Regions from separate parts of the Homo sapiens genome. Here all the other regions are linked to region 3. Evidence: fine-mapped expression QTL. A gene starts in region 3. Each other region holds a variant in brackets. All regions are shown on one strand. Distances are from middle to middle. Region 1 overlaps ARHGAP39 (Rho GTPase activating protein 39). Region 2 overlaps LOC100130027 (a long non-coding RNA gene). Region 3 holds the start of COMMD5 (COMM domain containing 5).

Evidence for each region. PIP is the estimated chance that this variant, and not a neighbour inherited with it, causes the effect.
Region 1: its variant is fine-mapped to the expression of COMMD5 in whole blood (TOPMed, PIP 0.98).
Region 2: its variant is fine-mapped to the expression of COMMD5 in whole blood (TOPMed, PIP above 0.99).

The regions. Positions count from the first base shown.
Region 1 is chr8:144,529,612-144,532,263 of GRCh38, forward strand. ARHGAP39 (Rho GTPase activating protein 39) reads right to left here. Exons shown (of 12, transcript NM_025251.3): 11 at 1,091-1,260; 12 at 1-1,005. The coding sequence ends at 811. Among named protein-coding and RNA genes, the nearest start is that of C8orf82, 1.8 kb to the left of the region's middle. RefSeq lists a silencer at 367-466. The variant G/A (reference allele first, on the strand shown) is at 1,375.
Region 2 is chr8:144,822,996-144,825,786 of GRCh38, forward strand. LOC100130027 (a long non-coding RNA gene) reads right to left here. Exons shown (of 5, transcript NR_147501.1): 1 at 2,318-2,791. Among named protein-coding and RNA genes, the nearest start is that of ZNF7, 3.2 kb to the right of the region's middle. The variant T/C (reference allele first, on the strand shown) is at 1,535.
Region 3 is chr8:144,851,482-144,854,272 of GRCh38, forward strand. COMMD5 (COMM domain containing 5) reads right to left here and starts at 1,567. Exons shown (of 2, transcript NM_014066.4): 1 at 1,358-1,567. RefSeq lists enhancers at 782-1,630, 1,208-1,537, 2,088-2,187 and a silencer at 1,608-1,797.

The DNA.
Region 1 (2,652 bases), 320 kb before region 3:
AGGACGGGGACGGCTCAGAGATAAATAGCATTTAGGTTAAAACTATGTCATTAGCAAATTTAGTTCTTATATCTTTCCCTCTATTTATATCTCTATACACGGTGGGCTGCGATGCAGGATAGATTCTGGATTTACAGTTACACGAAGAAAAAAATACTCTCGCCCCTCCCCCACCCTGCCCCCAGAATGCCTGCCCAGCCCTGCTCCCTACCCCAGAGGACTTTGGTTTGGGGGCCCCCACCCCACCCACCGAGAGCCTGCCAGGCCCCGGGCCCACTGTCCTGGAGCCCCCAAACTCCTGAGCAGTCACCAGCTGGGGACCACGGGCCGAGGGAGGGAGAGGAGGCGGGGACAGGTCGGGAAGCTCTCTCGGGGCTGGGAAGAGCTGCAGGCCAGGACGAGGACAGGAGAAAGGGAAGGAGAGACCGGGGCGGCTGGGCAAGGCCCAGGCCAGGGCGCGCAGGAGCCACAGGGAGGCAGCCCGGCCCCAAGGAGGCAGCGTCGCTCGGCTCCAGGACACAGAAGGCACTTTCTCGGAGCTGACCCGCGGCCAGCGGAGGGCGAGGCGGTGCCCGCGGGAACTGGCCGTGAGGTGGGGGGCCAGAGGCGCCCTCCCCGCCGCTGCTGTGCCCTGGCTGCACCCTCAGACCAGGCAGAAGACGTGGGGAGCGCCGGGGCCAGGGGCCTGGGGGAGTGGAGGGGGCTCCAGGGCTGGGCCGGGCGATTCTGGCCCCTCTGCCGGGAGAGCGAGTGCGGAGTTCGGCCTGGCTGGGGGCGGCAGGACATCCCTCCTGTCCCCGGGCGCCCCCGCTACAGCACACCCTCCATGAAGCTGGTGTCCAGGTGCTGGATGAGCACCCGCAGGAAGGACATCTCCTTGCGGGTGTTCTCGAAGATGACGCGCGGGTCGTCGGACTGGCAGCGCAAGCAGTTGGGCGCCATCACCATGGCCAGGTTGCTGACATCCATCTTGGTGACCGCGACGTTGGCCGGCTGCACGAAGACCTGGTGGAGGAGCGAGGGTGGGCGCGGAGGGGCGGGGGCGGGGCGGGGAGGGGAAAGCAGCGGGGACCCCCGGGGAGGGAAGTACCTGCAGGAAGCGGATGAGGTAGCACAGCACCATGCGGTTGATGCGGGGCAGCGCGTGCACCACGGCCACCGCCGCCTCGGGGCTGTCGTAGTGCGCGATGCACTGCTCGTAGAACTCGTGCGGGATCAGGGGCTCCTCCAGCTCCCGGTACCACAGCTTCAGCAGGGACGCTGGGGACACAGCACGGGGCTCAGCGGCCCTGCTCGGCGGGCACCCCTGGGCCAAATGGGGTCCCGTGGCGGACATGCATGGAGGGGTGCTGTGGGGGACAGGCTGGGAGGGCC[G/A]GCTCATTCTGGACAGGGCCCATCTGGCCAGGCTGGGCCCTGACCCCAGAGGGCCTTTCGGCTCCTGGGGGCCTGAACTCGATCCTGGAGGCATGTGGGTCACGCCAGCAGAGTTGTGCAAAACAGGATTTTTCTCAGGAGTCGTCTGTGTAGCCACCGTGAGGGGGTGTCTGCAGAGCAGGCACAGCTGAAGGGCACAGGGCAGAGAGCAGCAGGTGGGGAGTGGGCTAGACATAGCAGGCACGGCAGAAGGGCACAGGGCAGCGAGCAGCAGGTGGGGAGTGGGCTAGACATAGCAGGCACGGCAGAAGGGCACAGGGCAGGGAGCAGCAGGTGGGGAGTAGGCTAGACATAGCAGGCACGGCAGAAGGGCACAGGGCAGCGAGCAGCAGGTGGGGAGTGGGCTAGACATAGCAGGCACGGCAGAAGGGCACAGGGCAGGGAGCAGCAGGTGGGGAGTGGGCTAGACATAGCAGGCACGGCAGAAGGGCACAGGGCAGCGAGCAGCAGGTGGGGAGTGGGCTAGACATAGCAGGCACGGCAGAAGGGCACAGGGCAGGGAGCAGCAGGTGGGGAGTGGGCTAGACATAGCAGGCACGGCAGAAGGGCACAGGGCAGGGAGCAGCAGGTGGGGAGTGGGCTAGACATAGCAGGCACGGCAGAAGGGCACAGGGCAGGGAGCAGCAGGTGGGGAGTAGGCTAGACATAGCAGGCACGGCAGAAGGGCACAGGGCAGGGAGCAGCAGGTGGGGAGTGGGCTAGACATAGCAGGCACGGCAGAAGGGCACAGGGCAGGGAGCAGCAGGTGGGGAGTGGGCTAGACATAGCAGGCACGGCAGAAGGGCACAGGGCAGCGAGCAGCAGGTGGGGAGTGGGCTAGACATAGCAGGCACGGCAGAAGGGCACAGGGCAGGGAGCAGCAGGTGGGGAGTGGGCTAGACATAGCAGGCACGGCAGAAGGGCACAGGGCAGGGAGCAGCAGGTGGGGAGTAGGCTAGACATAGCAGGCACGGCAGAAGGGCACAGGGCAGGGAGCAGCAGGTGGGGAGTAGGCTAGACATAGCAGGCACGGCAGAAGGGCACAGGGCAGGGAGCAGCAGGTGGGGAGTGGGCTGCATTGCACAGGTAGGCCTCGGGGTGCCCAGCAGACACCTGGGGAAACTGTCCAATGGGCAGAAGGGAGGATGTGCTAGAAGTGACTGGGAAGCCATCACATCACTGGGCAGGATCAGGGTGGACCCCAGAGGCGGAGACAGGGGCCCCTGAGAACCACTGCCT
Region 2 (2,791 bases), 28 kb before region 3:
GTCACGGCAGTAGATACCCTCTCCCAGCCCATGTCACCGGGTCCTCAAGCTGGAAGCCTCACTGTCGACTCATAACCAGCCCGTGTGGCACTGCTTCCTGAGGCTGCCTCCCCCTGGACATCCCTGGTGTGATGGCAGCACGGCCATCCCCAACGCACAGCAGAGCCTCCATCTCCAGGGCCTCTGTGCCATCCTCCTCTGTGTGTGCGCAGCAGCCTCTACTGCTGTTCCCAAAACCCCAGTCCTGTGGCTGCTCTGGCACTCGTGGGTCTCTGTATGGCATGGTGCCCAGGTGGGGCCAGCTGTCTGCCCCAGCCCTCCGTGAGGTGGGCGCTGTGGCTCTTGGAGGCTCCTGGCTCCTAGTTCTCTGTCCTCCGAAACTTCTGAGCTCCCAGGCCCACTCCAAGTTGTGGCCTGGCCTATGGCAGTGGAGCTGTGTCCACCCTGTTCACGCTCACTCACCTCTGCTAGGGTCCCTTGGGAGCACTCTCCCCCGTTTCTGGCCGGGTGAGGATCCAGGGCGCCTCCCCTCATTCCAGCAGGGAGATTAGCTCAGGTTTGCAGGCTGGAAATCCTGCTTGAGGAAAACAGTCCAGAGGCCTGGAGTGAGCCTGGGGAGGTGCAGCAGGCAGGGCCTGAACCGGCGGACCCTCATACCCAGCTAGCCAGGCGGGCTGCCCACAGGACACTTGAAGGGTAGGAAGCGGCTGCCAAGATCTCACCCCCAAAGATGCCCAGCTGGCACAAGCCTCCAGTCTCTCTTGATTTGGCTGTTAGAGAAAAGCAGATTCTGCTTGTGGTTGTCATCATGCCATCCCAAACAGATCATCACTACAGGGAGGCACGATCTCTGTACTCTGATGGGTGCGGCATGGGTGAGGACTGACTGTCCAGAGGGCCCAGGGTGCCTTCCAGGAACACCTACAGCACCGCGACCTGATGCTCACCTCACCCCATCCCACAGCAGCCCAGTGCCCTCCTGGCAGTGCCCACTCCTCCCCAGCTCACCCGTCAGGCACTGTTCCTCCCTAGGTGTTCTCTCCACTGCATAGAGGCTTGGACCCGACTTCACGAAGACATTTTGAAACCATGCACCAGAGAGTGTGTGCATAGAATGAAGAACCTTTTGTTTGCAGGGCTCCGTCCCTGCTCTCCAGGGTCACCCAAGCATTTGGGGCCTTGATCCTGGAGAGGCTGCTCCCTCCAGGGCTAGCTAATTCCCAGAGACGGCAAACACTCCCCTTCCAGTGCACCTTTTTTTTTTTTTTTTGAGACGGAGTCTCGCTCTGTCACCCAGGCTGGAGTGCAGTGGCGTGATCTGGGCTCACTGTAGCCTCTGCCTCCTGCGTGCAGGCGATTCTCCCACCTCAGCCTCCTGAATACCTGGGACTACATGCGTGCACCACCACACCCTGCTAATTTTTTTGTATTTTAATAGAGACGAGGTTTCACCATGTTGGCCAGGCTGGTCTCACCTCAGGTGATCTGCCCTCCTCGGCCTCCAAAGTGCTGGGATTACAAGCGTGAGCCACTG[T/C]GCCCAGCCCCAGTGCACCTTTGAGACACAAACCAACCAATCCAGAGTCCACAACTATCTCCCTCCCTTATCACACGGTCACTCACCAAGCCAATATTTCCCCTGCCCTAAGTAACCCGAGGGCCAGGTACCGGACAAGAAGGGGCCACCCCTACAGCCCTGAGCCTGCCACAATTGTTCAAATAGTCCAATCGTGAGCTCACTCTGCATACCTACCCTGCCTGCCCTCTCCTTCCAGAGAAAATAAAGGCTCCGGCCAAACTCAGTCCTCTCCCCCTTTCTGCCTCCTGGCCATCCCTGGTCCTTCTCATGTCGCCCTGTGTGCCCTGCCCAGTTTCCAGGGACCCACGACTATAACTTCTTCCTTCACAACAGTCATTCTCACGTGTGCATGCCTTACCACACCTGTTAAAACAAATCCACGGGTCCGGGCGCGGTGGCTCACGCTTGTAATCCCAGCAATTTGGGCGACCGAGGTGGGCAGATCTCCTGAGGTCAGGAGTTCGAGACCAGCCTGGCTAACATGGTGAAACCCCGTTTCTACTAAAAATACAAAAAATTAGCCAGGCGTGGTGGCAGGTGCCTGTAATCTCAGCTACTCGGGAGGCCGAGGCAGGAGAATCGCTTGAACCCGGGAGCAGAGGTTGCAGTGAGCTGAGACTGTCATTGCACTCCAGCCTGGGCAACAAAAGTGAAACTCTGCCTTAAAAAACAAACAAACAAACAAAAAACAAATCCAGGATACATTTGAACTCACCTTGAGATGTGGGTGTCTGCACTCACCTTGAGATGTGGGTGTCTGCAGATGGCAAGGGACCTGTGGAGGGGCTCTGTGGATTGGAAGCACCATTGCTCTGGGCTGTCCACTCGGATACGGAGAGTGCTGTTGGAAATGCAGCACCTTGAAAGTGTCTTTGTAGTTGAGATTTTTTCCTGGAAACATTTACAGCTTGGAACTGTTCTATCTGGCCAAATATGAGGAGGCTAGAGTTGCCCCAAAAGTGGCAGCAAGGGAGTTGCCTCAAAAGACTTCCCCAAACAGTCCCGCGATGGAATTGGTTGGGATTCCAAGGAAAGAAGCTCTAAACGCCAGGGTGATCAGTCCAGAGCATTTCTTCCGGAAATTTTCACATGGAGCTTCAGCTTTCTTGGGATCGATGATGAGGCAAGGGATGCTCCACCCAGGTACATTTGCAGCAAGGGACTCTGGCTATGGAGCTTAGATGAGAGTTTAAGGGATTGGACTCAGGGCAGGGC
Region 3 (2,791 bases):
ATGCTGACAGTGTGAACTACCAATGACAGTCAGTGCTGCGGAGATGGCCCTGGAAGCAGGTGGCAGAGGGGTCCATGTCAGTCCCAGGAGGAGCGGAGGCCTCCCAGAGGAAGTGACATCTAAGGCATGAAGGACAAGCAGGAATTGGCAGAGAAGTAGGGGGCAGGGAGGAGGACCAGGAAACAGCACAAGTTCTCCAAGTAAATTAATAGATGAAAGAATGAACTAGGGGAACGGTCCGGGGAACACAGGGACACTGCAGCTGGCGCCACAGACCACACTGAGACCATTTAACTATTCAATCTTGAATCCTTCACAACAGTGGGCAAGAAGAATTACCATTCTCACCTGACAGAGAGGGAGATAAGGCTCTAGGCCAGGTGCAGTGGCTCAAGCCTGAAATCTCAGCACTTTGTGAAGGTGAGGCCAGCGGATCGCTTGAGCCCAGGAGTTGGAGACCAACCTGGGCATCATAGCAAGACCCCGTTTCTACAAAAAATTTAAAAAACTAGCCAGGCGTGGTGGTGCACGTCTGTAGTCCCAGCTACTCAGAAGGCTGAGAGGACAGAGGATCCCTTGAGCCCAGGAAGTCGTGGCTGCAGTGAGACGAAATCGAGCCGCTGCACTCCAGCCTGGACAACAGAGATGCTGTGAGGAAGGAAGGAAGGAACGAACGAATGGAGGGAGGGGGGAGGGAGGGGAGGCAGGGAAGAAGAAAAGAAAAGTAAAAAGAAATCAAAGCTCTAAACACAGCTGCCAAAGTCAAGGACTGAAGCCTAGACCTGTCTATTCAGAAGTCCCAGCTGTTTCCACCACAGCCCCAACCCCCGGGCTGGAAGAGCTGAGCAACGGCTGGCAACAGAGGCAAGTGCGGCAACTAAAGAGGGTTCCGACGCACCTGAAGGAGCAGTGCAGCAGCACAAGCACCTGCTATGCCAGAGGAAACGCACGTGCCCACCTCAGCACACCAGGTACTGGAGCAGAGCTCAGCGGGGCACAGCTCCTGTCCTCGAGGCACTTGTCAGGCCACTCTGCACAGCGCTGGGGGAGCCCAGGAGCTCCCCACGGGCTTCACGGCGCCCCATTCTCCCTGGGAGTCAACGACCACCCACTGCCAACTCCTTCACCGTCCCGCCAGCACCAGGAGCTCCTTCCCACTCCAAAGAGCCATCCGGGAAGGCCTCCGAGCTGCCCGCTTCCGGTCGCGCGGCTTGGAAGGCCGGGTTCGCACCCTGACTCCGTACCCGCGGCTCTGATGGGGGCGCGGCGTCGCCCGTTCCGGGGCGCGGGGACCTTGGTGCACAGAGTCAAATTGGCACTCGGCCGTCGCCGCCCCCACGGTTCGGGGCCAACCTACCGGCGGGCGCTCCTCCGCGGAAAAGCCCCGCAGTATCCAGAGCTCTCCGAACACAGCGGCGAAGCAGCCTTTCCTAGGCCCACACCCCCAGCTCGGGAGGGAGACTCCATCCTACTCCACCCCACGCTCCCGCTGTCCGAGTCGCCCCCAGCACCTGGCGCCGGCAATCCCCGGCTGATGCAGCCAAAAGCGGGCCTGGTCCCCGGAAGCGCCCTGAGAGCCACTTCCGGGCCGCTCTAGGAAGGCAGCAATGACCGCCCCACTGTGGTCCGCTGGCCCGAGGGGCGGAGCCGAGGCCGCGCCAGGTCCCGCCCCCTCCCCGCCCGGGGGAATCGGGGGTCGCCGGCGGGGTCCCAGACCTCGTCTTAGACAGTTTTTTTTTTTTCTTTCCCCAAAGAAAAAGAAGGCGGTGTTGTGTTTCCGTTTCTGAGGTAGAAACTGCGGCCTGCGCCCGCGTCTCCCTCCCCGCCCGCGCAGAGTGAGGGTAAAGCGGGAGAACGCGTCCCGTGGTCTGGGGTCAGAATTCCAGTCACCTGAGGCTGAGGAGCTCGCTGGCTTTCGTCGGCGTCCGGGTGGGCGGCGGGGAAACCGCGAGACCTTGAGGATCAGCGCGGAGCGGAGCCGAGCGGGCGTCCCTGTCCCGTGTGGACGGTCTGCGCCTCCAGGGTTTTGAGAGCTGCCCCGTTTCCCCTCCTGTCGGGTGGCGTCCGGCGCGCGTGACTCGGTTCCGCTTTGGGCTGCTCTGTTGGGCCCTAGCGCAGGAGCTCGGTCCGAAACAATGGCCGAGCCATTTTATTTAACATGTACTTTACCATAGTTAAAAAATAATATGCCAAAATCATTGAATTGTACAAAATGGGTGAATTATATGGTATGTGAATTATAGCCCAATAAAACTTAAAAAAAAAAAAAAAACTCTGAAAAGGGAAACAACCTAATTAAATGGGCAGAAGATGTGAGTAGACATCAAGGAAGATACAAAGTGGGTAATGGGTACATGAAGCCTTCGGCATTGTTGGCTATTAGAGAAATGCGAATGGAAGCCACGGGGAGGTGCCATTTCATACCATTAGAAGGGTTATAATAAAAATGACAGGTTGGGTGCGGTGGCTCACGCCTGTAATCCCAGCACTTTGGGAGGCGGAGGTGGACAACCAGATCTCAGGAGAACTCTATCATGAGACCATAACTTAAGGGCATGGTACTAAACCATTCATGAAAAGCCACCCCCACGATCCAATCACTTCCCACCAGTCTCCACCTCCAGCATTGGGTATTACCTTTCAGCATGAGGTTTGGGCGGGGACACAGATGCAAACCACATCAGCCATACAATGGAATAGTGTTCAATAATAAATAGGAGTGGAGACTGGGTGCAGTGGCTCATGCCTACAATCCCAGTACTTTATGAGGACTAGGTGGGAGGACCACTTG